Regions from separate parts of the Homo sapiens genome. Here region 2 is linked to region 1. The links come from fine-mapping of genetic effects on gene expression. A gene starts in region 1. The other region holds a variant in brackets. All regions are shown on one strand. Distances are from middle to middle. Region 1 holds the start of SPG7 (SPG7 matrix AAA peptidase subunit, paraplegin). Region 2 overlaps SPG7 (SPG7 matrix AAA peptidase subunit, paraplegin).

Region 1 (15,557 bases):
TCGCCCAGGCTGGAGTGCAGTGGCGCGATCTCGGCTCACTGCAAGCTTCGCCTCTTGGGTTCACGCCATTCTCCTGCCTCAGCCTCCCGACTAGCTGGGGTTACAGGTGCCCACCACCACGCCTAATTTTTTTTTTTTTTTGTATTTTTAGTAGAGACAGGGTTTCACCGTGTTAGCTAAAATGGTCTCGATCTCCTGACCTTGTGATCTGCTCGCCTTGGCCTCCCAAAGTGCTGGGATGACAGGCATGAGCCACCACGCCCGGCCTTTTCTTTCTTAATTTTTTATGTTTGAGACAGAAAGGTCTCACTCTATTATCCAGGCTGAAGTGCAATGGCACAATCTCAGCTCCCTGCAACCTCTGCCTACCAGGTTCAAACGATGCTCACGCCTCAGACTCCGGAGTAGCTGGGATTACAAGCACGTACACCACACCTGGCTAATTTTTTTTTTTTTTGGTATTTTTAGTAGACAAGGGGTTTCACCATGTTAGCCAGGCTGGTCTCGAACTCCTGGCCCCAAGTGATCTAACTTTCTTCTTTTATTAAAAAAACGAACGGCCGGGCGTGGTGGCTCACACCTGTAATCCCAGCACTTTCGGAGACCAAGGCGAGTGGATCACCTGAGGTGAGAAGTTTGAGACTAGCCTGACCAACGTGGCCAAACCAGGTCTCTACCAAAACTACAAAAATTAGCTGGGCTTGGTGTTGCATGCCTGTGATCCCAGCTATTCGTGAGGTTGAGGCAGGAGAATCACTGGAACCCAGGAGGCAGAGGTTCCAGTGATCTGAAATTACGCCATTGCACTCTAGCCTGGGAAACAAGAGTGAAACTCCAGGCTGGGCACGGTGGCTCACACCTGTAATCCCAGCACTTTGGAAGGCCAAGATGGGCAGATCGCCTGACATCGGGAGTTTGAGACCATCCTTGCCAACATGGTGAAACCCTGTCTCTGCTAAAAATACAAAAAATTAGCTGGGCGTGGTGGCGCACGCCTGTAGTCCCAGCTACTCGAGAGGCTGAGGCAGGAGAATCGCCTGAACCCAGGAAGCAGAGGTTGCAGTGAGCCGAGATCGTGCCATTGCACTCTAGCCTGGCGACAGAGCGAGACCCCATCTCAAAAAAAAAAATAATAATAATAATAGTAATAATAATAATAGAAATGAGGGTCTTAAACTCCTGGGCTCAAGTGATCATCCCACCTTGGCCTCCCAAAGTGCTCAGATTACAGGTGTGAGCCACCGCACCTACCCAGCAAATTTTTTTTTATAAAAAGGTCAGCCGGGCGTGGTGGCTCACACCTGTAATCCCAGCACTTTGGGAGGCCGAAGTGGGGAGATCACGAGGTCAGGAGTTCAAGACCAGTCTGGCCAACATGGCAAAACCCTGTATCTACTGAAAATACAAAAATTAGCTGGGCATGGTGGTGCATGCCTGTAATCCCAGCTACTCAGGAGGCTGAGGCAGGAGAATCGCTTGAACTCAGGAGGCAGGGGTTGCACTGAGCCGACATCGCACCACTGGACTCCAGTCTGGGCAACAGAGCGAGACTCCGTTTCAAAAATAAATAAATAAATACAAAATAAAAGTTAAAAAAAAAAAAGGTCCAGGGCTGGGTGCGGTGGCCCACTCCTGTAATCCCAGCACTTTGGGAGGCTGAGGCACGCAGATCACGAGGTCAGGAGATTGAGACCATCCTGGCTAACACGGTGAAACCGAGTCTCTACTAAAAATACAAAAAATGAGCCGGGTATGGTGGCGGGCACCTGTAGTCCCAGCTACTCGGGAGGCTAAGGCAGGAGAATGGCGTGAACCTGGGAGACGGAGCTTGCAGTGAGCTGAGATCACACCACTGCACTCCAGCCCAGGCGACAGAGCGAGACTCCGTCTCAAAAAAAAAAAAAAAAAAAGGTCAAGGCCAGGCACGGTGGTTCACACCTGTAATCTCAGCACTTTGGGAGGCCAAGGTGGGTGAATCACCTGAGGTCAGGAGTTTGAGACCAGCCTGGCCAACAAGACAAAACCTCATCTCTACTATACAAAAAGAGGGCCTGACGCGGTGGCTCACGCCTGTAATCCTAGAACTTTGGGAGGCCAAGGTGAGCAGATCACAAGGTCAGGAGATCGAGACCATCCTGGCTAACATGGTGAAACCCAGTCTCTAATAAAACAAAAAAATTAGCCGGGTGCGGTGGCGGGTGCCTGTAGTCCCAGCTACTAGGGAGGCTGAGGCAGGAGAATGGCATGAACCCAGGAAGTGGAGCTTGCAGTGAGCCGAGATTGTGCCACTGCACTCCAGCCTGGGCGACAGAGCGAGACTCCGTCTCAAAAACAAACAAACGAACAAAAAACAAAAAATTAGCAGGGTGTGGTGGTGAGCACCTGTAATCCCAGCTACTTCGGAGGCTGAGGCAGGAGAATTGCTTGAACCCGGGAGGGGGAGGTTGCATTGAGCTGAGATCGCACCACTGCACTCCAGCCGGGGCAACAGAGTGAGATTCTGGCAAAAAAAAAAAAAAAAAAAAAAAAAAAAAAAAGTCAAAGGACACACTTTATTGAAATGTTGAAGTATACAGGGAAAGAGCCCTGAAATCAATTCAGAACAATTTTGTATGAAGATTCAGAAGTCTTTTAGAAGATAGTTCTGAGTGGCTGTAAGCATTGACACTTACCGTAAAACCAACAGTAAGCTGAAGATGAGCCTAAAGCCAGAAACGCCTAAACTGAATCCACCTGCGAAACACTGGTGTCCCTTCCCGCAGTTATGACCTCCCCTCGAGAGCTCAGTAGGGAGAGTCAGAGCTCCTCTCTCACAGAGTAAAGCTGTCCCTGGCCTTGGCAAATGCAGCGTCTCACACAAAATCAATCAAGAAGGACGTCACTCCTGAAACAAACTCCTGCTAAACTCGAATTCACAATAATAATCCCCTCATCCAATAGCTGAACCATCATTTCCACATCCTGAAAGCTTTCCTGAAAAGCAACATGGGAAGAAAAAGTCCTTATGACAGTTCCTCACTCGCCTTCCAAGGCCAGGTGCCTTTCTAGAAAGATGAGCTCTGCTGAGCAGGGCGTCCATCTTAACAACGCTGATTTCCAGCGAGAGGCCTCAAGGATCCAAAAGCAAAGCATTCCTGAAGCTGAGTTCAACCCTTCTGCCCCCTGGGGCTGTGAGTCTGAAGCTGAGCCTCCAACTCCTGGGCTCAAGCTCCTCCAACTCCTGAGCTATGACTACAGGTGCACACCACCACGCCTGGCCAATTATTTTCTTCTTTTCTTTCTGTATAGATAGGGTCTTTTTAAATTTAAATTTAAATTTTTTTTTTTTTGAGATGGAGTTTTGCTCTTGTTGCTCAGGCTGGAGTGCAATGGCATGATCTCCACTCACAGCAACCTCCACCTCCCAGGTTCAAGCAATTCTCCTGCCTCAGCCTCCCGAGTAGCTGGGATTACAGGCGTGTGCCATCACGCCCGGCTAATTTTCTATTTTTAGTAAAGACGGGGTTTCACCATGTTGGCCAGGGTGCAGGTGATCCGCCTGCCTCAGCCTCCCAAAGTGCTGGGATTACAGGTGTGAGCCACCACGCCCAGCCTTTTAATTTGCAGTGAGACAGGGTCTCGCTATGTGGTATAGGCCTCAAGTGATCCTTCCACCTGGGCCTCCCAAAGCGTTTCGATTACAAGTGTGAGCCACTGCACCCGGCCCATCTCCCCATTTTCCAGACTGGTTTCACCTTGCTAAAAGGAAAACAGAAATGTAAAGACATCCAGAGGCAGCTACTGACTGAAGAACATCAGATGAATATACCTTCGTCCTCTTCAGGCGCCTTCCCCTTCGACTTATCCTTCTCCTTATTCTTCTGCTTCAACCTTGAGGTGTTAAAATAGAAAGTACCACCTATGAGAAATAGAGAAAGGATTTAACAATTAAGTTTTGCAACCACAGGGGAGGCATACAGGACAACAGTGTACTCCTAAATAACCAAAGCAAAACAAAAACCATCTGAAAAACCTACTTATATCCATAAGATTTATAAATATGAAATAAAGCATATCCTATATCACTTAGTCCAGTATTTCCTAATTACAAAATAATAAACTATTTTAACTTACGTTAAATATCTTTGCTACTTAAATTGCTAATGTGAGGGAATAAAAAATAGTTATGAACACAAATTTGGGAAAATATCACGAATCCCTTTAATATATGAAGTTGCTTTAAAAGAACTTAAACACGCCAGGCGTGGTGGCTCATGCCTGTAATCCCAGCACTTTGGGAGACCGAGGCAGGTGGTTCACGAGGTCAGGAGTTCAAGACCAGACTGGCTGAGATGGTGAAACACTGTCTCCACTAAAAATACAAAAATTAGCCGGACGTGTTGGCAGGCGCTTGTAATCCCAGCTACTTGGGAGGCTGAGGCAGAATTGCTTGAACCCGGGAGGCGGAGGTTGCAGTGAGCTGAGATCACACCACTGCACTCCAGCCTGGTTTACAGAGCAAGACTCCGACTCACAAATGGTTTCCAGACAAGTGGCAACAGCAGCAGCCCAGCCACCACCAAGAGGGGCCGGCACGACACTCCTCACACAGAGCTGTCTCAAAATCTGAACAAATCAGCGTTTACAAATGGGGGAGGCCAGGTGCAGTGGCGCACGCCTGTAATCCCAGCACTTTGGGAGGCCGAGTCGGGTGGATCACGAGGTCAGGAGATCGAGACCATCCTGGCTAACATGGTGAAACCCCGTCTCTACTAAAAATACAAAAAATTAGCCGGGCATAGTGGCGGGCACCTGTAATCCCAGCTACTTGGGAGGCTGAGGCAGGAGAATGGCGGGAATCCTGGAGGCAGAGCTTGCAGTGAGCGGAGATCGCGCCACTGCACTCCAGCCTGGGAGACAGAGCAAGACTCCGTCTCAAAAAAATAATAATAAACAACAACAACAACAACAACACAAAAATGTAGCTGTACGTGGTGACACATGCCTGACTTCCCAGCTACTCAGGACGCTGAGTGGGAGGAGAACCTGGGCCCAGGAGGTTGAAGCTGCAGTGAGTAGAGATTGCACCTGGGCAACAGGGCAAGACCCTATCTCAAATAATAATAAAAAATAATAAAAATAGGGAAAGAGTTTCACAACCATGACCTGAAATGTAACTTTCTTCACAAAGACATGAACGGGTTCACCAGTGAAACGGCCCCGGTTGCCACTTGCATGTCACCTCAGGCTTAAGGAGGCTGAAGCATGTGCTTCCTGTTTCACAGCCACAGGCACCCGTGAGCTGACGTTAAACACTGACAGCAGATGAGCCAGTTGCTGATGCACGGCCAGTGGGCACGGCACTCTCCCTACCCATGTGTTGGCACAAAGCTGTTTAATGTTAGTTAGGAGTAGAAATATTTTACTTTTTCCCTGTTCCAACTCCATAAAGGGGAGCGTGAAATAAAAGTGAGAGGTGTCAATCCTTCAGGTTCTTTAACCTAAAGCCAAGAGAGACCAAAGAATGTCACAAGGTTTCATTAAATGATTTATTGAAGAGCAAATTATTTGCAGGGTATTTTTAGTGATTGTGTGGATATAAAACATCTGTAGCCACTTTGTAAATCCTTACTAAACATTCTTGCAGCTGACTAGATAACACGAAAAACCTTTTTCAAGCAGCCCAATTACTGGAATACAGCAGAATTTTTTTTAAAAAAGGACAACTTGGCCAGATGCGGTGGCTCATGCCTGTGATCTCAACACTTTGGGAGGCCAAGGCAGGCTGATCGCTTGAGTCCAGGAGTTTAAGACCAGCCTGGGAAACGTGGCAAAACCCCATCTCCACAAAAAATACCCCCCAAAAATTAGCTAGGCGCTTTGGTGTGTGCCTGGAGTCCTGGCTCTATGGAAGGCTGAGGTGGGAGGATCACTCCAGCCTAAGAGGTCAAGGCTCTGCAACTGGGGGATAAGGGAGTAAAGAGGCCCCTTTGGGCCTGGACAACAAAGTGAGACCTTGTCTCTACAAAAAACAATTAGCCGAGTGTGACGGTACACGCCTGTAGTCCTAGCTACTCCGGAAGCAAAGTGGGGAGGATCCCTTGAGCCCAGGAGTTCTAGGCTGTAGTGAGCTCTGATCACACCATTGTACTGCACTCCAGCCCGTGCAACAGGGCGAGATCCCGTCTCTAAAATAAAAAAAGATCAGCCTCCCAAGTAGCTGAGGCGGTAAGTGTGCAGTCATGCTCAGCTGCTTCTTTAAACAGATACATACCTAAAAGTTGCCAGAGTCTGACTGGATTCTGAACTAAATGTTGTTTCAACAACAATCCGTTGATCCCTTCAAAGGTAGGGGTTAGCAGTCTCAATTGTAAGCTCTGAAAAAAAAAAAAAAACAATACTGGAGGTCACACCAACATTAGAGAGTACCAAAGCAATGCAGACTAAAAATCGTTTTTAAAAGTTCAAATATATAATTATTTGTAATATCTACATTGCCCTGAAATATAAAGTAATAGTCTGAGCAATAGGTCAAAGCTTTAGGTAACATCAAAATGTCAAAAGCAAGTAAACAGGTTAAAACACAGTAATTGGCCAGGCGTGGTGGCTCACGGCTGTAATCCCAACACTTTGGGAGGCTGAGGCGGGTGGATCACATGAAGTCAGGAGTTTGAGACCAGCCTGGCCAACATGGTGAAACCTCATCTCTACTAAAAATACAAAAATTAGCCGGGCGTGGTGGTGCACACCTGTAATCTCAGCTACTCAGGAAGCTGAGGCAGGAGAATCGCTTGAACCCGGGAGGCAGAGGTTGCAGTAAGCCGAGATAGCACCACTGCACTCCAGGCTGGGCAACAAAGGGAAACTCCATCTCAAAAAACAAACAAATAAACAAACAAAAAATCACGATAGTGGCCAGGCACGGTGGCTCATGTCTGTAATCCCAGCACTTTGGGAGGCTGAGGTGGGAGGATTGCTTGGGCCCAGGAGGCAGAGGCTTCAGGGAGCCATGATCAGGCCACTGCACTCCAGCCTGGGCGACACAGCGAGATTGTCACAAAAAAAAAAAAAAAAAAAAAAGAAGAAAACAAAACACAGAAGTACATTGGCTGCTATCCCATGGCCTGAAGCTTCTGCAGGAGAAAGGGAGCAGCCCAGCTCTCCAAAGGCCACAGTGGCTGCCCAGACACGGGGCTCCTGCTGTCACCAGAGAGTGGCTCCTTGTAGAACATTTCCAGGTACCAAACCAGTTAACAAGTATATACTTTCAGAGTTCTCCTTTCAAGATAAACATTTTCCCATTTAAATATGTTTTATGGCCGGGCGCGGTGGCTCACGCCCTGTAATCCCAGCACTTTGGGAGGCCGAGGCAGGCGGATCACAAGGTCAAGAGATGGAGACCATCCTGGCCAACATGGTGAAACCCCGTCTCTACTAAAAATACAAAAATTAGCTGGGTGTGGTGGCGCGCACCCGTAATCCCAGCTACTCAGGAGGCTGAGGCAGGAGAATCGCTTGAACCCGGGAGGCGGAGGTTGCAGTGAGCCAAGACCATTGCACTCCAGCCTGGGCGACAGAGCGAGATCTCTGTCTCAAAAATAACCGAAAAAACAACAACCTAAAAGGTGTGGGCTAAGCTCCTAGGCGAGGGCTAGGAGAAAAAAACATCAGCCCAAAAGCTGAAGGACACAAGGTCTGGTTTTCGGGAGGAGATGCTATCCTATCCTTAGCAGAACCTGAAACAAGGCCGCACTACAGGGGGTGCTCAATGACTGTATCAATAACGTGCCGAGCTACATGACAACAGCAAAATGCAGCTACAGGGTATTTTGCGGACACAGAAACGTTCTGGGCCCCCTACTCGGCAATAACCACCCTAACTGGAAGGCGCTGGAATTCCTGGTGACGGAATCGATCCACAGGCGTGGACTGTAAATTAGTGCTACGCCGGAAACCGTTACTGGATTCCACTTTAAAAGGCGAGGAAGACGGGCGGAGAACATCCACACACAACAGACGGGTTGGGAAAGTCCACGCCGAGGACTGCGCGGATCCCAGCCCTGCCTCTTCCCGGCCCGCCCAGCGCCCACGATCCAGGGCCCCAACAGTCGCTCCGCGCCGAGGTCCACAGCTGGGGGATCCGCGGGCCCACAGGCGCAGGCTCCCCCGCCGCAGGGGCCAGGCGGCCTCCGACCCGCCCCGCCGGGCTGGGCCTTACAGAGCAGAGCCGGGCGGGAGGTGGGGCCCGGACTCCGCGGGGATTTACCTGCAGAGCTCGGCCTCCAGCCTCGGCGAGGTCCCCCGGAGGCCTGCTGGCCATGTACGGCCGCCCCCTCCCGGGCCTGGCGGGGAACCCTGGACTCCAGGCCGGGCCTGGGCCCCACAGCGGCCGAGGACCCGGGCCTGGACCCCGGCGGAGGGCACGGAGCAGCAGCAGCAGCACGGCCATGTTGGCCTGAAAGCCGCGCCTGCGTGATCCGCGGGGCGCTACACGGCGCCTGCGCGGCGGGGTGGGCGGGGTCTGACGTGGCGCCTGCGCGGTCCCCACAGCTGCGCCCCGCCGCGCCCGGGTGCCGCTTGCCGCACCCCCGAGCCTGAGCCCGTCTACCTCGTGGCTGCCTGAGGCCCGGGTATGGGGGCGCGCGTCTGCGAGGAGGTCGCGGGTGCCCTGGTTTTTTTGAAGCCGGCCTTGTATTCCCAGGGCCTGGCGGGTGAATAACCGGCCGGGTCGTGGCTGCGTGGTCGTGCTCCGCCCGCGCCGAGGGGCCTCACGCCCGGGCAGCCTGCGTCACCCGCAGGGTTCGGTCACAGGCGAGGGCGGATGGTGCGGGCCGGAATCCCGCCTGCGAGTAGAGGCCCGCGCTCAGGAGGGCGGCGCCGGAGGCCTCGGGTCGGGAGGGCCCCTTCGGGTGTGAGGAGCGCAGGAAGGGGGCGGTTTTCCTGCGTCTTGAGCCGCCCGAGGACGAGGACTGAAGTTGCAGCCGCCGCAGGGAGGGCAGCCCCGGAGGAGGAGGGTCGTGAGGGAGGGAGCGCGCAGTGCGGCGCGGCCTGGCAGGCGTCTGCAGAGCTCGTCCCGCACACCTCTGACTTCGGAGCGCTCCGTCCTGTGCCTTCGGACTGGCTCACCTCGGAGGCGCTTCGAGCCTCGGTCCTGCCCCGGCCGCTGCGCGAGCCCATCGTAGGAAGCGGGGAGGCGCCGTCTGGAAGCTTAGGAAGAGGCTCTGTTCTCTTCAGGGTCCGCCCTCCGGGCCCGGGCAGGGTCCCTCGTGGGCTCCCAGGCGCGCGGGGTCCTCCGCCACCCCGACCCCTTCCTCCGTCCGCCTTAGGTCTAGAGCTGACGCCAAGAGCTGGAAAGCTTGTTGAGTAGGAAAAGCAAAGACTAGATGGTCTGTCACAGAGGTAGGATGAGGGTGACCTATTTATTTTTATGCTTTTCTGTACTCCGCAAATTCGTAACAGTGAATGCCAGTGACGACAGCCAACATCACCGAGTGCCTAGCTCCGTGTCGAACACCCATGTAATATTCACAACCCTGTGCAGCGAATACAATACCTCTATTTTACATGTAAAGAAAGATTCAGAAGTATTAAAAGTAACCTGCCTAGGATTACAGCTCTGAAGTTAGGGCAGAATTTCAAGGCCGGTCTGGTTTGTTTCTGGACCTGCACTCACTCCACCACTACAGACGAGGTTGCAAAGCCAGTGGGCTGCGTGTAATCCTCCCTCTTCCTCAGCCCCGAGACGCTCAGGAAAGTGTTTTCAGTTATCGTGGTTATCCGCCCTCAGCCCTCCAGTGGGCCGGGTGCCTCGGCAGAGGTGCTCGGGGCTGGGGAGGTGTTCTGTTGGTTTGTGGAGAGGACCTTCCCCTACACCCAGGGCTGACACTGATTTTCACAACTGAACCGCTTTTCCTTTTGCTTCTTATTGTACAGTCAGCCTTCGCAGTGAATCCAACCTTGCCGTTTCCTCCTCCACTATTTTTTCTTTCCCTGATTGAAAGACACCAGGTGGGCCGGGCGCGGTGCCCTCCCCCTCCCTCTCCCTGCCCTTCATCCCAGCACTTTGGGAGGCCAAGGCGGGCGGACCACGAGGTCAGGAGATCGAGACCATCCTGGCTAACACGGCGAAACCCCGTCTCTACTAAAAATACGAAAAATTAGCCGGGCGCTGTGGCGGGCGCCTGTAGTCCCAGCTACTCGGGAGGCTGAGGCAGGAGAATGGCGTGAACCCGGGAGGCGGAGCTTGCAGTGAGCCGAGATCCCGCCACTGCACTCCAGCCTGGGCGACAGAGCGAGACTCCATCTCAAAAAAAAAAAAAAAGGTCACAAATCCTCTGAACGCACAGGCATAAAGGGTTGTGGGGCTCGGTCACTTCCTAGAACACAAAAAACCCTTTCGGAAGTTTGGTTGGGTTGGTCACGGGACAAGGCTGGAGAGAGGGTGAGGGCACACATTTGGATGTGTTTGGGAGGAGTTTAAGTGTAGTCCTATTAATATTGTTTGAGATAAGTTAAAATTGTTTCCTGGCAATTCATCAGAAGCAGTGTGGGGTGTTGGCAAGAGGCCTCCTCTGGGGAAAGAACACTGGGTTCTGTCTCCTCTGGCCTATGACCTTAAGCAAGTTATTAGCTTCCTCAAGCCTCAATCTTCTCAGCGGTAAAATGGGGATGATAATTATCTGCAAAGCAAGGCTAATATCAGCCTTGGGTTTCCCACAGGGTGGTTATGAAGATAAAATGCAATAAATGTGTGTGAGGGCAACTGACGAGCCAGGAAGCCTTGGCATCCAGAGTTATTACTGGGACGTCATGGGAAATGAGGATATGGGAACAGAGTATTTATGCATTTATTCAAACTCATCTCTAACAACCGTGCTTTGAAGGCTGGCTGCATCCCAGGCCCTACAGGTGAACCGTGACTCTCAGCTCTCAGCTTCAGCCCCTGCTGTAGTGGCGGCAGCAGCAGAGGCTCACGTAGCCTCAAGCAGTAGGGGTTTTGTTTAAGGATTCGGGTGCCCCATGGTTTGGGGGTTTTGTTTTTATTTTGCTGCATGATTTGGATTCAAGAAGAAGGATCTGTAGGACAGTGGGCTCCCGGGTCTGCCTTTGCCCTCATAGCCTGCAGCAGAGCAGGACGTTCGCTTTCCCTTCTCCGCCTGTGTGTTCTTCCTGCACTGCCTAACTGCTGCTTGCTCATTTGTGCTTCCGTGTCACCCCTCCTCAGCCCTCTGAACTCTGCACGTCAGGACTTGGCACACTTCCTAACTGCTGCTTACTCATTTGTACTTCCGCGTCACCCCTCCTCAGCCCTCTGAACTCTGCGCTTGGACTTGGTGTGACTTCCCTTCCCCGCCTATTCTCTAGAGGCAGTCTCTTGGTGACTCCTGGTTTGGGTCAGGGCACGCCTTAGGTCTCTGGATGGCTACCAACCCCAGGTTCCCTCAGCTCTAGCCCCATAAGAGAGGAGGCCTCAGGAGCGCCTAGGGCAGCCCTTTCAGCCTGGGCTGTGGGAAGGGAAGGTGGACAGAGAGGAGACCCCATGCCTTTGTTCCCTGTTGATGCAGAAGCATTCTAGGCTCTGTCCCTTATTCCTGCTGTGGGCTGAAGCTTCAGGCAAGGTGCTCTACAAACTTCAGTTGCCTCATCTATCAAACAGTAACGTTTAACATTCCAGAGACAGAAGTTGATCTTTGGGACTTTTTTTGATTTTAAGATCTAGGCTGGCTGGGGCGGTGGCTCATGCCTGTAATCCCAGCACTTTGAGAGGCCGAGACCGGTGGATCACGAGATCATCAGGAGATGAGACCATCCTGGCTAACATGGTAAAACCCAGTCTCTACTAAAAATAGAAAAAATTAGCCGGGCACGGTGGCAGGTGCCTGTAATCCCAGCTACTTGGGAGGCTGAGGCAGGAGAATCGATTGAATCTGGGAGGCAGAGACTCCATCTGAAAAAAAAAAAAAAAGATCTAGGCTTCTGGCTGGGTGCTATGTCCCACGCCTGTAATCCCAGCACTTTGGGAGGGCAAGGCAGGTGGATCACTTGAGGTCAGGAGTTCAAGACCAGCCTAGCCAACACGGCGAAACTCTCTTTCTACTAAAAATACAAAAAAATTAGCCAGGCACGGTGGCAACATGCCTGTAGTTCCAGCTACTCGAGAGGCTGAGGCATGAGAATCGCTTGAACCTGGGAGGTGGAGGCTGCAGTGAGTTAAGATCTTGCCACTGCACTCCAGCCTCAGTGATGAGTGAGACCCTGTCTTTTTTTTTATGAGACAAGGTCTCACTCTGTTGCCCAGGCTGAAGTACAGTGGTGCGATCTCAGCTCACTGCAGCCTCTGCCTCCCAGCTTCAAGCGATTCTCCTGCCTTAGCCTCTCGAGTAGCTGGGATGACAGGCATGAGCCATCGCGCCAGGCCAAGACTGTCTCAAAAAAAAAAAAAAAAAAATCTAGGCTTCCTTATTAATATCTGAACAAATAATTACATATTTGCTTCTTTCCAAATTTGGCAGCAACTAAACTTAAAAATTTTTTTAAGTACATTTGCTTTTGCAGTTAGCCTGGCCTCCAGAGCTCTTGGACTGCAGCACCCATAATGATGGCCAAAGCCGCCCCCACGGCGACTCCTCCTGCTGAAGCAAAGTCAGGCAGAACAATAAGGTATGTGTTGAATATGAGGATGTCTTACATAAAACATGTTACCTTGTGGAATGCTTGAAAATAAACGAGTTCATCTCTGTAAATTTTAGTACATTTTCTTCCTGAAGCTCTTTCTTAGGAAACAGTTTCTTCTTATATCACTTGTTAACTGGGCTTTACTCATCCATGTAGAACCAGATTTTATTCTTCTTTAAAAGATGGGGCTGGGCGTGGTGGCTCACGCCTGTAATCCCAGCACTTTCGGAGGCCGAGGTGGTTGGATCTGGATTACCTGAGGTCAGGAGTTGGAGACCGGCCTGGCCAACATGGTGAAACCTCATCTCTACTAAAAATACGAAAATTAGCTGGGTGTGGTGGCAGGCGCCTGTAATCCCAGCTACTCAGGAGGGAGACTGAGGCAGGAGAATCGCTTGAACCCGGGAGGTGGCGGTTGTGGTGAGCCGAGGTCGCGCCACTGCACTCCAGCCTGGGCAACAGAGTGAGACTCCGTCTCAAAAAAAAAAAAAAAAAAAAAAAAAAAAATGCTGGGCACCGTGGCTCACGCCTGTAATCCCAGCACTCTGGGAGGCCGAGGGTGGGTGGATCATCTGAGGTCAGGAGTTGGGAGACTATCCTGGCCAACATGGTGAAACCTCCTCTCTACTAAAAATACGAAAATTAGCTGGGTGTGGTGGCAGGCGCCTGTAACCCCAGCTACTTGGGAGGCTGAGGCAGGAGAATCGCTTGAACCCAGGAGGTGTTGGTTGAAGTGGGCCGAGATCGCATCGCGTCACTGCACTCCAGCCTGCGCGACAGAGTGAGACTCCACCTCAAAAAAAAAAAAAAGGGTGGGCGGATCACCTGAGGTCTGGAGATTGAGACCAGCCTGACCAACATGGAGAAACCCCGTCTCTATAAAAATACAAAATTAGCCAGGCGTGGTGGCACATGCCTGTAATCCCAGCTACTCTGGAGGCCGACCGAGGCAGGAGAATGGCTTGAACCCGGGAGGTGGAGTTTGCTGTGAGCTGAGATCGCGCCATCGTACTCCAGCCTGGGCAACAAGAGCAAAACTCCGTCTCAAAAAAAAAAAAAAGAAAAGAAGATGGAAAGTTCATTCCTTTTTTTTTTTTCTTTTCTTGAGACAGAGTTTTGCTTGTTGCCCAGGCTGGACTGCAATGGCTCGATCTCGGCTCACCACAACCTTCACCTCCCGGGGTTCAAGCGATTCTCCTGCCTCAGCCTCCCAAGTAGCTGGGATTATAGGCATGTGCCACCACGCCCGGCTAATTTTGTATTTTTAGTAGAGACGGGGTTTCTCCATGTTGGTCAGGGTGGTTTCAAACTCCCGACCTGAGGTGATCCACCTGTCTCGGCCTCTCAGGGTGCTGGGATTACAGGCGTGAGCCAACACGCCTGGCGGAAAGTCCGTTTCTACTAGCAAGAAACCTGTACAGGAATTTGAGCATGACTAAATAATCATGTATTCCTCAGCGTTTCTTTAGATTGTTGGGTGTGGGACTTTGGGCAGGTGTTTAAGGACCTGGAAGGGACAGCCTATGTCCTCTCCACGTGACGGGAATCCCCACGGCCCTGGGCAGTGCATTCCGAGTTCGCCAACGTGGCAACTTAAAACAACAAATGCTTATCTCACTCTGTTTCTGAGGGTCAGGAATCTGGGAGTGGCTCGACTGGACCGTTTAGTCTCTTGGACTGGACAAGCTTGCAGTCCGACTAACTGATGGCCAGGGTGTGGCCAGTTGGGAGGGGGCAGGTAGCAGGGGAGTGGGGAGCGGCCAGGGAATGCTGGAGAGTCCGAGGGGGAGTGCTGCTGAGGACTAATAAAGTCTGTGGTAAAAGCATGACTGGCTGCTGAGAGAATGGACTCTAGAGAGGCCAGAGGTGGGAATGTGAGGCCAGGGAGGAGGGAGGCTTTTGCAGCAGTGCCAGAAGGTAAGGATCCTGGCAGGACCGAGGCATGGGGCTGGTTCTCCCAGAGGATCCAGTAAAGCCTGGGGTGTCTTGGTGCCCACTCTGGGCTGCGTTCTCTGATCTGCAGCGCCAGGAAGAGAGAAGCCAGCAGAGGCCAGCATGTGGCTGCTGGTGGCCCAGCTGCTGAGGGCGATGAGGGTGAGTCTCCAGACCGGCCTCTGAAACGCCAGGACAGGGCCGCAGACACCAGGCTCAGTGTGGACATGGAGCAGGAGGAGGGCTTTCTTTTTGTTGTAACTTAAAGGGCTGGTTTGACAAGGAACAGGTGGTCATTTCATTTTTTTTTTTTTTTGAGATGGAGTCTTGCTCTATTGCCCAGGCTGGAGTGCAGTGGCTCAATCTCGGCTCACTGCAAGCTCCGTCTCCCGGGTCACGCCATTCTCATCTCAGCCTCCCGAGTAGCTGGGGCTACAGGCGCCTGCCAGCACGCCCGGCTAATTTTTTTCTATTTTTAGTAGAGATGGGGTTTCACCGTGTTAGCCAGGATGGTCTCGATCTCCTGACCTCCTGATCCACCCGCCTCTGCCTCCCAAAGTCCTGGGATTACAGGCGTGAGCCACCGTACCCAGCTACAGGTAGTCATTTCTACATAAAATCCGAACCCCGGCTGGCCCACTTCAGACCTCCTCACCTCGCGGACCCATGGACAAACAGAACCACATGAGTGGACTTGGGCTGGTGCTGGGATTTTCCTGGGGTGCTTTCAGCAGCCTTCCAGAGACCAGCATGCCTTTCTGGTTTCTGGAACGCTCAGTGAGCTTTGGCTGGGGAGCACAAGGGCTGATCAGGTTAAGTTCAAGATTATCTGGAGATGGACAGGTACTTTTGCTTTATACACACCTTGAAACCTTGAACGAAAGCATGCAGTTTGGGTTTACCATCCCCGTCCCTGCTGTGTATTTTTTTTTTTTTTTTTTGAGACGGAATTTTGCTCTGTCATGCAGGCT
Region 2 (15,557 bases), 36 kb before region 1:
CTGGCCCAGCTGCTGCTTCTGAGAATTGTGGCGGCGAGATGGCCACATCCAAGTGCTCTGAGAATCCCGAGGACGCTTAATTTAAAATCTAAAACTAGGCTGGGCGGGGTCGCTCACATCTGTGATCTCGGTACTTTGGGAGTTAGAGGTGGGCAGATTGCATGAGCCCAGGAGTTCGAGACTAGCCTGGGCAACATAACGAGACCCCTTCGCTACAAAAAATATAAAAATCACTCGAGCCACCAGTGGGGCATGCCTGTAGTCCCAGCTATGCAGGAGGCTGAGGTAGGAGGATCGTGTGAGCCCGGAAGGTCGAGGCTGCAGTGAGCTGTGATCGCACCACTGGACTCCGGTCTGGGCAACAGAGAGAGAGACCCTGTCTCAAAACAAAAAGAAGCTCTAAATAACGGCTGCAGTGATGATTGCATTAATGACCAAAACCATAACAGCCAATTCACAACCTTTTCCTGGCAGGACACTGAGCCTTGGGAAAGAGACTCACTTTTTCATTGTGACTATCTGACTTTTGCCCATCAAATACAGTAAAAATTCTTTTTTTTTCCCTTTGAGAGACAGTCTTGCTCTGTCACCCAGGCTGGAGTACAGTGGCACAGTCTTGGCTCACTGCAGACTCTGCCTCCCGGGTTTAAGCGATTCTTGTGCCTCTACCTCTCAAGTGGCTAGGGTTACAGGTACGCACCACCACGCCCAGCTAATTCTTTTGTATTTTTGGTAGAGATGGGGTTTCACCAGGTTGGCCAGGCTGGTCTCGAACTCCTGACCTCAAGTGATCTGCCCGCCTTGGCCTCCCAAAGTCCCTGCATTAATTTTGATTTCTTGACATACCGTGTTAAAACGTCGTGTTCACTGCTGAGTTTTTTAGTGTCCCATAAATGGGACCCCCAGCTGAGTGTCCACTCGCCCCACAGTGGGCCTAGCTCTGGTCCCATGACTGTGGTGCACATCGCCAAGGAGCAGCACGGATCTGGTCCCCAAACGCTGCCTCAGCCCTGCTGAGACCCTGGGATGGGCAGGACGCTCTCTGATTAACACGCAACTTTGCTACAACTCACACCTGAGAACCAATCACGGAGACCAGCACTGACAAACCAAGCTGGCAACTGCTACAGCGTATGCATTGTTTGCAGTGAACCCTGAGGTAGGAACACAGCACTGCCGCCTTCTCAGGTGAGCCTCAAACCTGCACGGCTTCCTGGGGCTCCACTGTAAAGACGGCACCTGCGTTCCGAGTAGAGACCTCCTCTTGGCAGCACTCGGACTCCCGGTGGTGGAGCCACGTCTTAGAGAAGCTGTAACATCACCATTTGGTAAGAATAAATGTCCATCGAGTTCACAGCTGCCTACAAGAGTAGTTTTTTGTTTGTTTGTTTGAAGTAGAGACAGTTTTGCCCTGTTGGCCAGGCTGGTCTTGAACTCCTGACCTCAGGTGATCCACCATGCCCAGCCTAGAATAGTATTTTTTAAATGTACACTCAACTCACTTCTTTCCAATGTTAGGAGTCATTTGGGGTGGACAGGCAAAGGCAGCGAAACCCCATTGCATGGTGTAACCTTCCACGAGTCACCCCAGTAGCAGCACCATGCTCCGATGTGACACAGCCCACTCCTGCCTCCCACGTCCGAGTTCCCGCCCATCAGTCGCCACCCACCCTGCTCCATGGATCATGACAGTGGCAGGCTTTCCTCTCACATGACCTACAGACACAGGCGGGACTCCCCAGTCAGCTACAGACACAGGCGGGACTCCCCAGTCAGCTACAGACACAGGCGGGACTCCCCACCCACCTTTGGCCAAGGCCCGTGGAGCCGGCACCTGCCAAGACCCACCTTCATCACGGCCTCCGTGTGCTCCAGCATCCAGCCCACCAAGGCGTGGCCCGACTCATGAAACGCAACCACTTTCTGTTCTTCCTTGGACAGGATCTTGCTCTTTTTGGCAGTCCCTGAAAGAATGCCGGGGTATGAGTTGGGCGCGGTGGCTCACGCCTGTAATCCCAGCGCTGTGGGAGGCCAAGGCGGGCGGATGACCTGAGGACAGGAGTTCGAGACCAGCCCGACCAATATGGTGAAACCCCGTCCCTACTAAAAATAGAAAAATTAGCTAGGTGTGATGGCGGGCGCCTGCAGTCCCAGCTACTTGGGAGGCTGAGGCAAGAGAATCACTTGAACCTGAGAGACGGAGGTTACAGTAGGGCAAGATCATGCCACTGCACTCCAGGCTGGGCGACAGAGCAAGACTCCGTCTCAAAAAACAAACAAAAAAGAATGACGGGGGGGTGAGCTGAGACCCCGGCCTCTCCCTGGCTGGGCCCTGCTCCTGCCCCGTGTGGTCAAAGCAAGCCTCTCTCTGCACATCTGCCTCTTGGAGCTGCAGCTGCGGCTCTGGACACCCCAACTCAAAACGACACTCTTCAGGTCAAAGGGCTGTTGAAGGAGGTCGTGATTTCTTCTTTTATAAATGTTGCAATCATCGAAATAGCTCCTGCTGCTTTTAGGAACAAGTGCAACCCTCTGAGGAGTGTCTCCTCCTGCCCCATGGTTGGGGGGGTGCCACAGGGTCGGGGCAAGGGTCACAGAACAGCAGCTTTTGACTTTCTCCCTGGCAGGATGGGCAGAGGCCTCCTCTGAGTTACGGGCCTCCTGCTTACTTTCCCTCTCCCCTCAGACCTGGAGGCGCAGCTCCCATCCCCATCACTTTCTGGATCCTTATGGCTTCTACTCACCCCTTCAGAAGCTTTTTGCCTCAGGGACAAGGCTTTTTTTCTGTCAGTGACAGGGTCTCACTCTGTTGCCCAGGCTGGAGGGCAGTGGTGCGATCACGGCTCACTGTTGCTTCAACCTCCCAGGTTCAAGCAATCCTCCTGCTGCAGCCTCCTGAGTAGCTGAGACCAGAGGTGTGCTCCACCACCATGCCTGGCTAATACTCTTTATTCTTTTCTTTTAAGAGATGGGGTCTTGCTGTATTGCCCAGGCTGGTCTCAAACTCCTGGCCTCAAGCAACCCTCCTGCCTCAGCCCCCAAAGTGCTGGGATTACAGGCATGAGCCACAGTGCCCAGCCAGGGACAAATGTTTGCATTAAATCTCCCCTGTTCAGCTTACTGGTGAGGCTTCATTTCCTGTCTCAGATTTTCCACACATCTGTAAGTGTCCATTCTGTACAACTTGAATCAGCTCGTGGTCCTGAGCACTCAAGTACGTCATGTATTTTCTTTCAACTGGCTTGTGGTTCCCACTCAGTCCTTCCTGCTTTGCTACTATTATCAAAAGCTTTTCGATTTCCACATAAAAGTAAATGGTTACACGAAAATAAATTTCAGTAAGACACAGGCAGCGCCAGTCCTCTCGACCCGCAGGGCTGTCGGAGAGAAGCCAGGTGTGTTTTGCAGTGTCTGGCACAGCAGCTGCCCCACTCCTCTGCAGGAACCCACTGCTTTCCCAAGCTGAAGCCCTGGGGACCTGCAAGAGGCGTGTTCGTGCTAGGAATTCACTCGAATTGAGGGTGAGGAACTCGGTTCTCGCAGGGATAGCTCGCAAAGGAGGCTCGTGCTCCTCAAACACCTGGGGCAAGAACCACTTCCCTTTTCAAACGTTCAACCTGTCTCACACTGACAGTGCGGGTCTGAACTCCATTCCATGAGATGACTGATCACGTCTGGGTGTTGCCATCATAGCTATGGAAACCTCCAGCAGCTCCGATTCCCAGTTTGGTCCTCTCTCCTCACAGACGTCGCAGACCCCACACTGAGCAGCCACGGAACGGCAGTCAGAGGCGGTCAGCCCACCGGTCACCCGTCACCAAAACTCATCTCCCGTTCCTACTGACGGTCGGGACCATGAGTTTCACCAGAGGTGGTGCTGCAGATCCACACCTCTCCGCAGAGCCCCTGCTGCGCTGAAAGCACGGCTGTCCCTCCACAGCCACGGGCGGCAGCAGCCCTCCGGCCCACAGTCAGCGGCTGGAGCTCAGCCCCCATGAGGCTGGGGCTAGGCTGAGCCCACCACACCCAGGCTGGCAAGACATTTTTAGTTTTTATTATTTTTATTTTTGGGGGGCATTTTTTATTTTTATTTTTTCACTTTCTTTGGCAAGGCATTTTTTATTTCTGTTGGACGAGCGTCTACTCTTAGGTAAATCTGTGATATTTTAAACTAAGGAAAAGTACAAGGTATCATAAAGACATGAGTTACGCAGAACTGAAACGCAACGTGTGTTCCTTCCTGTGTGATGGTTCCATCCACCTCACCTCTCAATACCTGCCTGGGTATTTCTGGGGTTCAAGCCCTGCTAAGGAGGGCCTTCACCCAGGGCGCGCCCCCTGTACCTGCGAGGACGCGCTCCACGGCGTACTCGAAGTTGAGAGTGTGCACGGAAGTGTGTCCCTCCCGCGCCGCGTGCAGCGCAGCCTCATTGCAGATGTTGGCGATGTCAGCCCCTGTCAACACAAACAGCCACGGTGTGGGTGGGTGGGTTTCTGCTATCAGGGCTTAAGAGGAGGAAGGGGCCCTCAAGGGAGAACAAAGATGGCCGGGCATGGTGGCTCACCCCTGTAATCCCAGCACTTTGGGAGGCTGAGGTGGGCAGATCACCTGAGGTCAGGAGTTTGAGACCAGCCTGGCCAACAGGGTGAAACCCTATTGCTACTAAAAATACAAAAATTAGCCGGGCGTGGTGGTGAGCGCCTGTAATCCCAGCTACTCAGGAGGCTGAGGCAGGAAAATCGGTTGAACCCAGGAGGCGGAGGCTGCGGGGAGCCAAGATCACGCCACTGCACTCCAGTCTGGGCGACAGAGTAGGACTCTGTCTCAAAATAAATAAGTAAATAAATAAAAGGAAGAACAAAGAGGGAAAAGAGACCAAGAACCAAGAGTGCTGGTGAGAGCGTCTGGGAGAGAGGCACGGGGAGCTGGCGCCAGGAGCAGAGCTGGGGAGAGCGGCAGGCGCCGGCGCCAGGAGCAGGGGTGGGGAGAGCGGCAGGCACTTGCACCGTGTTCCACTGAGGCCATTCCACAGACGAGACACAGAACCGCCAGGCTCCATCCGCCCTGACGCCCGTCTCTCCTCCCAAGGGCAGTTAGTTCCACACCCCATCTTGTGGCTGATTCCACCTAACAGCTCATGAGCATTGATGGCAAAGAAATTAAAGGCTCTCTAGTAACCACAAAATTCTAGTGAAAGACCCTAACGAATAATCAAAGGGCAAATTCATCTCATAATAAAAGGGAGGTTTGTTGACATTAACTTTTAAAATGTGAACCACACAGCAGGAAAAGCATCTTGAGGTATGATTTCTATTTCTACAACTTGACAGAGACCGTGAGGGTCAGAGGGAGGCGGCTTTGCCGGGACTGCGTGGTCTGACTCTGGGTCTGACGGGAAACGCCGGCATGACTGGTCACTGTGTGGAAGCAACATAACTCCACTATCTCTGGAAACAACACAGACCGGGAACCACCGTCTGCTTTTCCACCCCGGGGCGGAGGACGGAGTGCGGGTGCCGTCTGGACCTCCTGCTGCCCCACATACACATCAGCTCCCTCCCAGGCTTGTACTGAGCAGAGGCCCCCAGAGAAGGAGCAGCGCCCACCCCACAGAGGAGGCCTCGATGCTGTTTGCGCAGGTGACACCACCTGCCCTCAGGACGTGACGCTGCCCAGGCTGCGGGTTGAGAACGTACCACTGAATCCTGGTGTCAGCTCTGCCAGACGCTGGGAGTAAAAGGTGCTGGACTGGGTCAGCTTCAGGCTCTTCAGGTGCTGCTCAAAAATCTCCCGCCTCTCCTGCCAGAACCAGGGGAGGAAAGACAGTCGGGCTCAAGCCTAGTTACTGCCACAGGTGCGGCATGTTTGTCTGTGGGGGGGGGGGGTCCCCAAGTAGCTGGGATTACAAGTGTGTGCCATCATGCCTGAGTTTTGTATTTTTAGTAGAGACGGGGTTTCGCAAAGTTGGCTAGGCTGGTCTCGAACTCCTGGCTTCAAGTGATCCACCTGCCTCGGCCTCCCAAAGTGCTGGGGTTACAGGCGTGAGCCACCATGCCTGGCCACAAGCAGCATTTTAAACACGAACAGAACACTGTTGGATGGCCGGGCCCGGTGGCTCACACCTGTAATCCTAGCACTTTGGGAGGCTGAAGTGGGCAGTCTGGCCAACACGGTGAAACCCCATCCCTACTAAAATACAAAAATTAGCCAGGCAAGACGGCGGGTGCCTGTAATCCCAGCTACTCGGGAGGCTGAGGCGGGACAATCACTTGAACCTGGGAGATGGTGGTTGCAGTGAGCCGAGATCGCGCCGCTGCACTCCAGCCTGGGGGATAGAGTGAGACTGTCTCAAAAAAAAAAAAAAGAGAACGCTCTTGGAAGGAGAGGTGGGTGGGGATCACTTGAGGCCAGGGGTTTGACACCAGCCTTGGCAACACAGCGAGACTCTGTTAAAAATTAACCAGCACGGCGGCGCACGCCCATAGTAGTCCTAGCTCCTCAGCTTGAGCCCTGAAGGTTGAGGCCGCAGTGAGTGGTGATCGCAGCACTGCACTCCAGCCTGGGTGACAGCGCAACACCCTTTCTCTAAAAATTGAAAGAAAAATTAAAAAGAAAAAAGAAAAAATTATAGCAGAATAGCTAATGAAGCACGTCACACACAGCAAATGCTTATTCTGCAAAACTTCCAATTCCCACACATGTTCCATGCGTCTAAATCCTGATGTAAAATGTTTCTTACACAGTCAAAAAGCCAGGAGCCGCCCTCCCCTGGAGAAGCTGCCCTCCCCTGGAGAAGCCGTGTCCCCTGGAGAAGCTGCCATCCCCTGGAGAAACAGTGTCCCCTGGAGAAACAGTGTCCCCTGGAGAAGCCATGTCCCCTGGAGAAGCCGTGTCCCCTGGAGAAGCCATGTCCCCTGGAGAAGCAGTGTCCCCTGGAGAAGCCGTGTCCCAGCGGGAAGGGCTTCTGCTCCGCCCTTCACTCTCCATCCCAACAGAGACTGAGCACCGGCTGAGAGCCGCTGAGCCCAGCCCTGCTCCCCAGGCTGCACTGATGGAACATTAACCCACCAGCAGACCCGGAGGCCCTCTCTCCAAACCCTCCGCTCCATGAGCTGAACTCCTGCTCCCTCAGGGCAGCAACAAAGGCCCTTTGGCCAGGAAGTGTAACGTCCAACCAGAGCCCTGTGACAGAGGAGGGATCAGGCGAGAGGCCTCAGGACTTCTACTCCCACCCCAATTTCAGGGCAGCTGCACAGTCCACGTCCCCAGAGCCCACGCTACGGATGGAAGGAAGTGATGCCACACAAGAATAAAGTTTCCCACAATTTTTCCTCCTGGATTTTGTTTCAAAGGATTTGCTATAAAAACCAGACTGATACCCAGGATAAAAGGAAAACCAATAGCAGGTGAACAGAACTGCAAAACCCCGAGCAGTGAGTGCAGCCATTGGGCAGGTCTGCCAGGGGGCGTGCAGCCAATGTGGGGGCCACAGCAGTGAGTGCAGCCGGTGGGCAGGTCTGCTGGGGGCGTGCAGCCGATGCGGGGGCCACGCTGGACACTGCCAGCACCTGTGGGGCTGTGACAGGCTTCACACCAAGAAGTGTCTTAGAGGAGAGGCCAGACCACTCAGAGCGAGTGGGGGCGGCCCAGGTGGAGTGGGAGAGGCTGGGATCCTGGCTCTGACCTGCAGCGTGGGGAGATCAATGAAGACGTGCCGGTCCAGTCGGCCTGGCCTCATCAGAGCACCGTCCAAAATGTCAGCTCGGTTCGTGGACGCCAGGACGATGACATGGTCTGTGGTACCCATTCCTGAGGGGACAGAGCAGACAGTGGCTCTGAGGGTAGGGGTCCTGACACAACAGATTTCCCCTGCAGGTTCCCCTTCAGGACACAGGAGGGAGAGAGACCCCCCTAAGGCCCAGAGAGAAAGGAACAGCCCGGTCCTTCTGAACTAGGAGCCGCGATCCCCCATCGCTCCCAGCCAGCATCACCAGGAGGAACAGGAATTTGCCTATTTTGACAAGTGCAAACAGCAGAACTGTCCAAGGCCCTCCGGGAGCTCCTACAGCATCCTGGAGCCTCTCCCTGCCTCACGGTGCCATCTGGGAGCCGGTCCTAACAGCCACCCCCCACCCCCCACCGCCCTGTCATCATTATTGTGACTTTGTAACATTTTAGCTAACACCCAGCTTTAGGCTGTGACTTGGAAACATTTTATCTTCAACGTCTGGCCCTAGGCCCTGGGTTTCAGGCTTGACGTTTGTCATCGGAGAATTTAAAAGTGAGTCCAGAAACGATCACTGATCCCTGGTGTATGTGAACCTTGACTGGCCCTTGATGTGAATAAATCAACTGC[G/A]AAAAGAGATTTATGAAGCTGCTGGGAACACCTGACTGGATGCTCGTAAGAACGTTCAGGTGTTATGATGCTGTGGTGTTTCTCTGAATTTAAAGAAACGTACTCAGAGCATATAAGATTCAAAACTATGGGTTTGCTTTAAAAGAATCCAGTCCACCAGGTGCAGTGGCTCACGCCTGTAGTCCCAGAACTTTGGGAGGCCGAGGCAGGCAGATCACGAGGCCAGGAGTCCAAGAGAAGACTGGCCAAAATGGTGAAACCCCACAAAAGATACAAAAAATTAGCCGGGTGTGGTGGCGTGCACCTGTAATCCCAGTTACTCAGGAGGTTAAAGCAGAAGAATCGCTTGAACCTGGGAGGCGGAGGTTGCAGTGAGCCAAGATGACACCACTGCACTCCAGCCTGGGCTACAGGGCAAGACTCCGTCAGGAAAAAAAAAAAAAAAAAAAAAGAATCCACTGGTGGCCAGATGCGGTGGCTCACGCCTGTAATCCCAGCACTTTGGGAGGCTGAGGCAGGTGGATCACCTGAGGTCAGAAGTTCTAGACCATCCTGGCCAAAAGGGTGAAACCTCATTTCTACTAAAATACAAAAATTAGCTGGGTGTGGCGCATGCCTGTAATCCTGGCTACTCGGGAGACTGAGGCAGGAGAATCGCTTGAACCAGGAAGCAGAGGTTACAGTGAACCGAGATTGTGTCACTGTACTCCAGCCTGGGCGACAGAGCAAGACTCTCAAAAAAAAAAAAAAAAAGGAAAAGGTCCACAATAAACAGTGTTAAAAGTAAAGATACGACAAGACCTACCTTGACTAATGTAAGAACAGGACCCGTGACTAATGTAAGAACAGGATATAGCCAGGCGCGGTGGCTCACGCCTGTAATCCCAGCACTTTGGGAGGCCGAGGAGGGCGGATCACAAGGTCAGCAGATGGAGAGCATCCTGGCTAACACAGTGAAACCCCATCTCTACTAAAAATACAGAAAATTAGCTGGGCGTGGTGGCGGGCGCCTGTAGTCCCAGCTACTCCGGAGGCTGAAGCAGGAGAATGGCGTGAACCTGAAGGGTGGAGCTTGCAGGGAGCCGAGATCACGCCACTGCACTCCAGCCTGGGCGACAGAGCAAGACTCCGTCTCAAAAAAAAAAAAAAAAAAAAAAAAGAACAGGATCTACCATGACTAATGTAAGAGCAGGATCTACCGTGACTAATGTAAGAAACCCTTAATAATCCCAGCACGTTGGGAGGCCAAGGTGGGAGGACCATGTGAGCCTAGGAGGTGAAGGCTGCAGTGAGCTATGATCATGCCCCTATACTCCAGCCTGGGCAATGGAGTGAGACCCTGGCTCCAGCAACCCCATGTTCTTAGGACAGGACCTTGAACGCTCTGAGGAGGCTGAGGGGCCTGACCAGCTTCTCCAGGGCCACTGTCCTGAGCCTCACTAAGCCGTAGCCGCCAGGTCTGGACAGCAGCTCAGTCCAAGACACACCCCACTCCCAAGCAAATCGCTCCCGAATTTCAAAGAAACTTTGAAAGACACAACCATTCTCCCTGGTTCCACACGTCAGAATGTGATAAGCTGGGATGCTAAGTCCCAGTCACATTTCTACAAGGGAGATCACAGAAGAGAATCACCTCGCCAAGGCAAAGACAGTGTCTTAAAATCACGGTGACTTTTAAAATAAACTCAGAAACAAAAACAGGCAGCAGAAGCACAAGTGCCTTGTCTCACTATGACACGAGGAACAAGAGGCTGGGGAGGGTGGGGACTGGGACCCAAGCTGGCCCCTCCAGAGCTGTCTGGAAGGCCTGCCAAGGCTTACTGCTCAGTGTCGTGGAGCGCCTTCCTTGCAGAGGCCAGGGCTGTGGATACAGAATTCTGAAAGATTGTATAAACAGTGAAAAAAATGGGAAAAGTAATAGGAACACCGGTCTCAAAGAAAAACAGCAGCCAGGCCAAAGAGGTGCAGTGCGAGCTCCTAGAGGGGGCGGCGCCGGGTTCAAGCACAGCTCGGCCTTCAGCAGAGCCCAGCCACCCTGCGGGGCACGTGCTCCCCACCGGGCTATGTGTCAGGATGGCCACCCTGCGGGGCACGTGCTCCCCCCGGGCCGCTATGTGTTAGGATGGCCACCCTGCGGGGCACGTGCTCCCCACCGGGCCGCTATGTATCAGGGTGGCCACCCTGCAGGGCACGTGCTCCCTACCGGGCCGCTATGTGTCAGGGACATGTGGTTTCAGGATACAGACTTCCTGGGACTGGACACATGCTCCCCCTGGGCAGCTATGTGTCAGGGACATGCGGTTTCAGGATACGGACTTTCTGGGACCGGATCCCTGGTGTGACTTTTTAAGTTTTGTATTCTGATGGTAACAGACACACAACAAATTGCAAAAACAGCACAGAGCAGTCCCTTTGGCCCTGGTCCCCCAGCAGCTGTGCGTTCAGTAGCTGCAAAACAAAGGCAAAGCCAGGAGACTGACATGGAAACGCCAGGCCCCTGCTCAGATGCCCCCACTCCTATGTGCTCTCACCTGTGTGTGTGCTCCACAGATGGACACCTGTGTCACACGCACGTTCACATAACGAGCATCTCCCCTCAAGACACAGAACCGCCCTCCCCAGAGGCATCCCTCCTCCCTGGAGACCTCCCCTAACTGCTGACAACCAGTAACCCGTTCTCCATCCCCAGAATTTTGTTATTTTGACAATTTCGTACAAGTGGAGTCATACGATACTAAGCCTGGCTCTTCTCACTTTGCGTCATTTCCTTGTTGCTGCAGGAAGAAAGTTTCCTTCTACTGCTGCATAGAACACCATGATAAGGATACACCAGTTTCAGCTCTTCTATTGCTGCGTAGAACACCGTGATAAGGATACACCAGTTTCAGCTCTTCTATTTCTGCGTAGAACACCGTGATAAGGATACACCAGTTTCAGCTCTTCTATTTCTGCGTAGAACACCGTGATAAGGATACACCAGTTTCAGCTCTTCTATTTCTGCGTACAACACCGTGATAAGGATACACCAGTTTCAGCTCTTCTATTTCTGCGTACAACACCGTGATAAGGATACACCAGTTTCAGCTCTTCTAGTCGCTGTGTAGAACGCCGTGATAAGGATACACCAGTTTCAGCTCTTCTATTTCTGCGTAGAACACTGTGATAAGGATACACCAGTTTCAGCTCTCAGCCACTGAATGGCACCTGGGTCACTTCCAGTTTTTAGCTATTACAGGTAAATGAGCGTCGGCGCCCAGGCATTTCGTGTGAGCCTAAGTCTTTGCTTTCCTGGGATGAGCACCCAGGAGGGTGGATGCGGGGTCATGTGGTGAGCGCATGTGGACACGGGGTCACATGGTGAGCACACGTTTAGTTTTTTAAGAAGCTGCCAAACTGTTTCCCAGTGAGGCTGCACCACGTCACACCCCCATCAGCAGCGTACAAGGGATCTGGTTTCTTTGCATCCTCAGCAGCGTGTGGTGTTGTCACTGTTTTTTGAGTTTTGTTTTGTTTTTGAGATGGGGTCTCGCCCTGTTGCCCAGGCTGGAGTGCAGTGGGGTGACCACGGCTCCCTGTAGCCTCGAACTGCCAGGCTCAAGTGATCCTCCCACCTCAATCTTCTGAGCAGCTAAGACTACAGGTGCGCACCACCACTGCCAGCTAATTTTTGTATTTTTTTAGAGACAGAATCTCACTATGTTGCTCAGGCTGGTTTCAAACTCCCGGGCTAAAGTAATGCTTCCAACTCAGACGCGCAAAATGCTGGGATCACACGTATGGCCCAGATCTGGGCCGGTCACTGCTCTTTACTCTAGCTCTCCTAAGAGGTGTGTGTTCCTATCAAAATCTCAGCAAGATACTTTGGTAGATAGGAACAAGCGTATTCTAAAAATTACAGGAAAAGGCAAAGGAATAGCTGAAACAATTCTGGTAAAGAACAAAGTGGGAGGAATCACTCCACCTGCTCTCGTCTCACAGAAGCGAGAGACCAGTTGTGTGCGGAAGGACAGACTCACAGAGCCAGCACAGACCCCCACATGCACCTGAGCTCCGGCAAAGGTGCAAGCACAACTTGGTGGAAAGAAGACAGCATTTCAGACCAGTGGGGCTGGAGCACTTTTCCACAGGCAGAAAATGAACCTGACCAAACCTCCCACTTCATGTAGACGTTAACTTAAAATAAGATCATGGATTAAATATAAAACTTCTATAAGATACCCATGAGAGGCCAGGCATGGGGGCTCACACCTGTATTCCCCACACTTTGAGGAGCTGAGGTGAAAAGATCATTTGAGCCCAGGAGTTCAAGAGCAGGCTGGGCAACAAGGTGAGACCCCCAACTACACAAAAAAAATTCTTTTTTAATTAGCCAGGCATGTTGGTGCACACACCTGTGGTCCCAGCTACTCAGGAGGCTGAGACGGGAGGACGGCTTGAGTCCCAGAGGCTGAGGCTGCAGTGACCCATGATCGCACCACTGCACTCCAGCCTGGGTGACAGAGCAAGACTCTGTCTCAAAGAAAAGAAAAAAGAAACCCACAGGAGAAAATCTTTAGGATCTAGGAATAGGCAAACAGTTCTTTTATTTATTTGTTTTTTTGAGAAGGAGTTTCGCTCTTTTTTGCCCAGGCTGGAGTGCAATGGTGCGATCTTGGCTCACTGCAACCTCCGCCTCCCGGGTTCAAGCGATTCTCCTGCCTCAGCCTCCCAAGTAGCTGGGATTACAGGTACACGCCACCACACCCGGCTAATTTTGTATTTTTAGTACAGATGGGGTTTCTCCATATTGGCCAGGCTGGTCTTGAACTCCTGACCTCAGGTGATCCACCATGCCCGGCGGGCAAACAGTTCTTAGACTTCACAGTAAAAACGAGATCTATAAAAGCAAAAATTGATAAACTGAACTTTATCAAAATGAGCAGCTTTTGCTGTTCCCCGTTAGAGGGTGAAAGGACAAGGGACACATAGAGTGCGTAAACCACATGTCCAAAAAAGGGCTGTGTTCAGAGCCCTGGAAAACACTCAGAACTCAGTCAAGACACCCACTGGGAAAATGGCCCCTTGGGCCTCGAGATCTGCACCCCCAAGCCCTGAGCTCCCACCCCTTAGCTCCTGCCTGGGTTTCCCACAGTATCCTCAGTGTTCAGGGCTGCCTGCTGGTCCACCATCACTGGGACCTAAGACATTGTCCAAAAAACAAGCAACCAAACTCAGGATAAAGGACCGGCTGCCACAGCCTCACTTCCCACAGGGCCGCAGACAGGACCCCTGAGAGGCCCTCAACTTGCCGCAGGACCCGACAGTTTGGGGGATGTTTTTGGGTCAGAGGCTCCTTCCATTCCCTGTTGGAGACGCATGTGGAAGACGGCAGGGCAGGCAGAGGCAGCACCACAGGGAGCAAGCCACGGACAGAAGCTAGACCTGACCCCGCTCTCCCGCTCAGAGCCTGAGATCCTTGAACCAGCACCCACTTCCTCTGAGAGGACAGAGGGCAGAAACAGCAGCATCACCTCTGGGCCACGAGCAAGTGCTCAAGAGCTGACTCAAGTGGGAATAAGCCATACTGCCGGCCCCTCCCCGCCTGCGGAGCCCAGAAGCCCAGGGCTCCTCGTCCACCCGGGGAATAAGCCACACTGCCGGCCCCTCCCTGCCTGCGGAGCCCAGAAGCCCAGGCCTCCTCCTGTCCATCCGTCCCCCAGGCTCACTGTCCATTCTGCTTGGACCTGGGAGAATTTCCCCCCGTGCTCTCTAAATGGCTCTTGTCAAGATTTTACCAACAGGACTTCCACATGGAGTGGTGACAGTGGATGCCCTGGCTATGTGGGTGTGGAGGGTACTCGTGCTTTCTTTGAGGGATGTCTCAACGCACCAGGACAGCACGAGACGCCCAACCCGAAGTGGCTGCTGCCACCTGAGTGCGCCCTTCCAACCTGAGGTCTAAAATGGGGAAGAAAGCTGCATCCCCATCCCGCTCCCGGCAGAGCCAATGCTTCTGAGTGGGAGAACACACTCTGAACCCCAAGTGTGGTTCTCTGCGCTCCAGCCTGGCCACACCAGCGTCACCCAGGGCTCGGCAGTGCTCGCAACCCCCAGGGAAGTACAGGGGCAGTCGGCGGGCGTGAGTTGTGAGTCAGACGGCCGGCTCCTGCTGGGCCTCAGCTTCTCCCTCTGCCAGCGCCCATCTACCCACCTGGCAGGCAGTCCACGGCTCCCAGGGCAGAGCGTGCTTGATACATTTACTGCCACATTAAGGACAAAGGTAGGGGTGTCCCGGGTCACACTGGGACCAGGACCAGGACCCCAGCTTCCCAGGACCTCATTCACTGCCCAGACACTGGGAGCCTGGACCTGAAAGAGCTCACGGCAAGCACTGCCAAGCTCACATGCTGATGACTTTATTTTTCACAGACTGAAAAAACAGAGCCTGGCATGGTGACTCAAGCCTTGAGTCCCAACTACTTAGGAAGCTTGAGCCTAGGAGGTGGAGGCTGCAGTGAGCTATGATGGTGGCACTGCACTCCAGCCTGGGCGACAGAACGACACCCTGTCTCTGAAGAAAAAAAAAGTCGAAGCATAAAATGTTCACAGCAGCCTTTTCTGTGTGTGGCTGCACGTCAGGGGCCGTCGTCTTGCTTCCACCACCAGGGGATGACTACGTTGAAGGGAGGCCTGTGTGAACCGCTGGGCTTCCGCAGCTCCCGCGTGTGGTCAGCGCCGACGCTCCCCATCAACGCTTTCCAGCACAGGAGCCGGGACCTGGACGTCCATCGCCGGCGGTGCCTCCAGTGCTCTTTGACTTGCGCCCTTCCCGGGGGCTCTGGGGTCCGCAGGACACCGCCATGGACCGGCTGACGTAACCAACAAGGCTTGGGCTTTTCTCTTCCCCAGTGAGATTTCCCCACGACCGGCACAGCGTCGGCCCTATCCTGTGCGCTTCCATGAACGGAAGCAACAAAGCCTGGCCTGGGACCTCGGCAGGGCTGAGCATGCACAGCTGTGGCTCTGCATAAAGGGACTTGTTTAGAGCTGGCACTCAACAAGAGGCCTTCAGTCAGCGGATTCCCAGGCCTGAGCAAATCCGGGGGCGGAAGCAGCTATTCTTATGATGGCACAGAGAGGTTATGTGGAGAAGATCGTTTGATATACGCTTGCCTTTGGGCTCAAGTCACTCAAAAAGGTGGTCTCTATCTTCAGTGCAAA

What was found. PIP is the estimated chance that this variant, and not a neighbour inherited with it, causes the effect.
Region 2: its variant is fine-mapped to the expression of SPG7 in whole blood (TOPMed, PIP above 0.99).

The regions. Positions count from the first base shown.
Region 1 is chr16:89,501,289-89,516,845 of GRCh38, reverse strand. SPG7 (SPG7 matrix AAA peptidase subunit, paraplegin) reads right to left here and starts at 8,443. Exons shown (of 17, transcript NM_003119.4): 1 at 8,246-8,443; 2 at 6,254-6,356; 3 at 3,809-3,898. The coding sequence starts at 8,428. LOC101927863 (a long non-coding RNA gene) reads left to right here and starts at 8,526. Exons shown (of 5, transcript NR_188547.1): 1 at 8,526-8,609; 2 at 10,699-10,887; 3 at 11,693-11,801; 4 at 12,535-12,639. RefSeq lists silencers at 7,950-8,069, 8,100-8,659, 8,730-8,939, 9,060-9,129 and an enhancer at 10,949-10,998.
Region 2 is chr16:89,536,901-89,552,457 of GRCh38, reverse strand. It overlaps SPG7 (SPG7 matrix AAA peptidase subunit, paraplegin), which reads right to left. Exons shown (of 17, transcript NM_003119.4): 10 at 7,686-7,810; 11 at 5,698-5,800; 12 at 4,345-4,455; 13 at 1,849-1,964. Among named protein-coding and RNA genes, the nearest start is that of RPL13, 16 kb to the left of the region's middle. The variant G/A (reference allele first, on the strand shown) is at 8,358.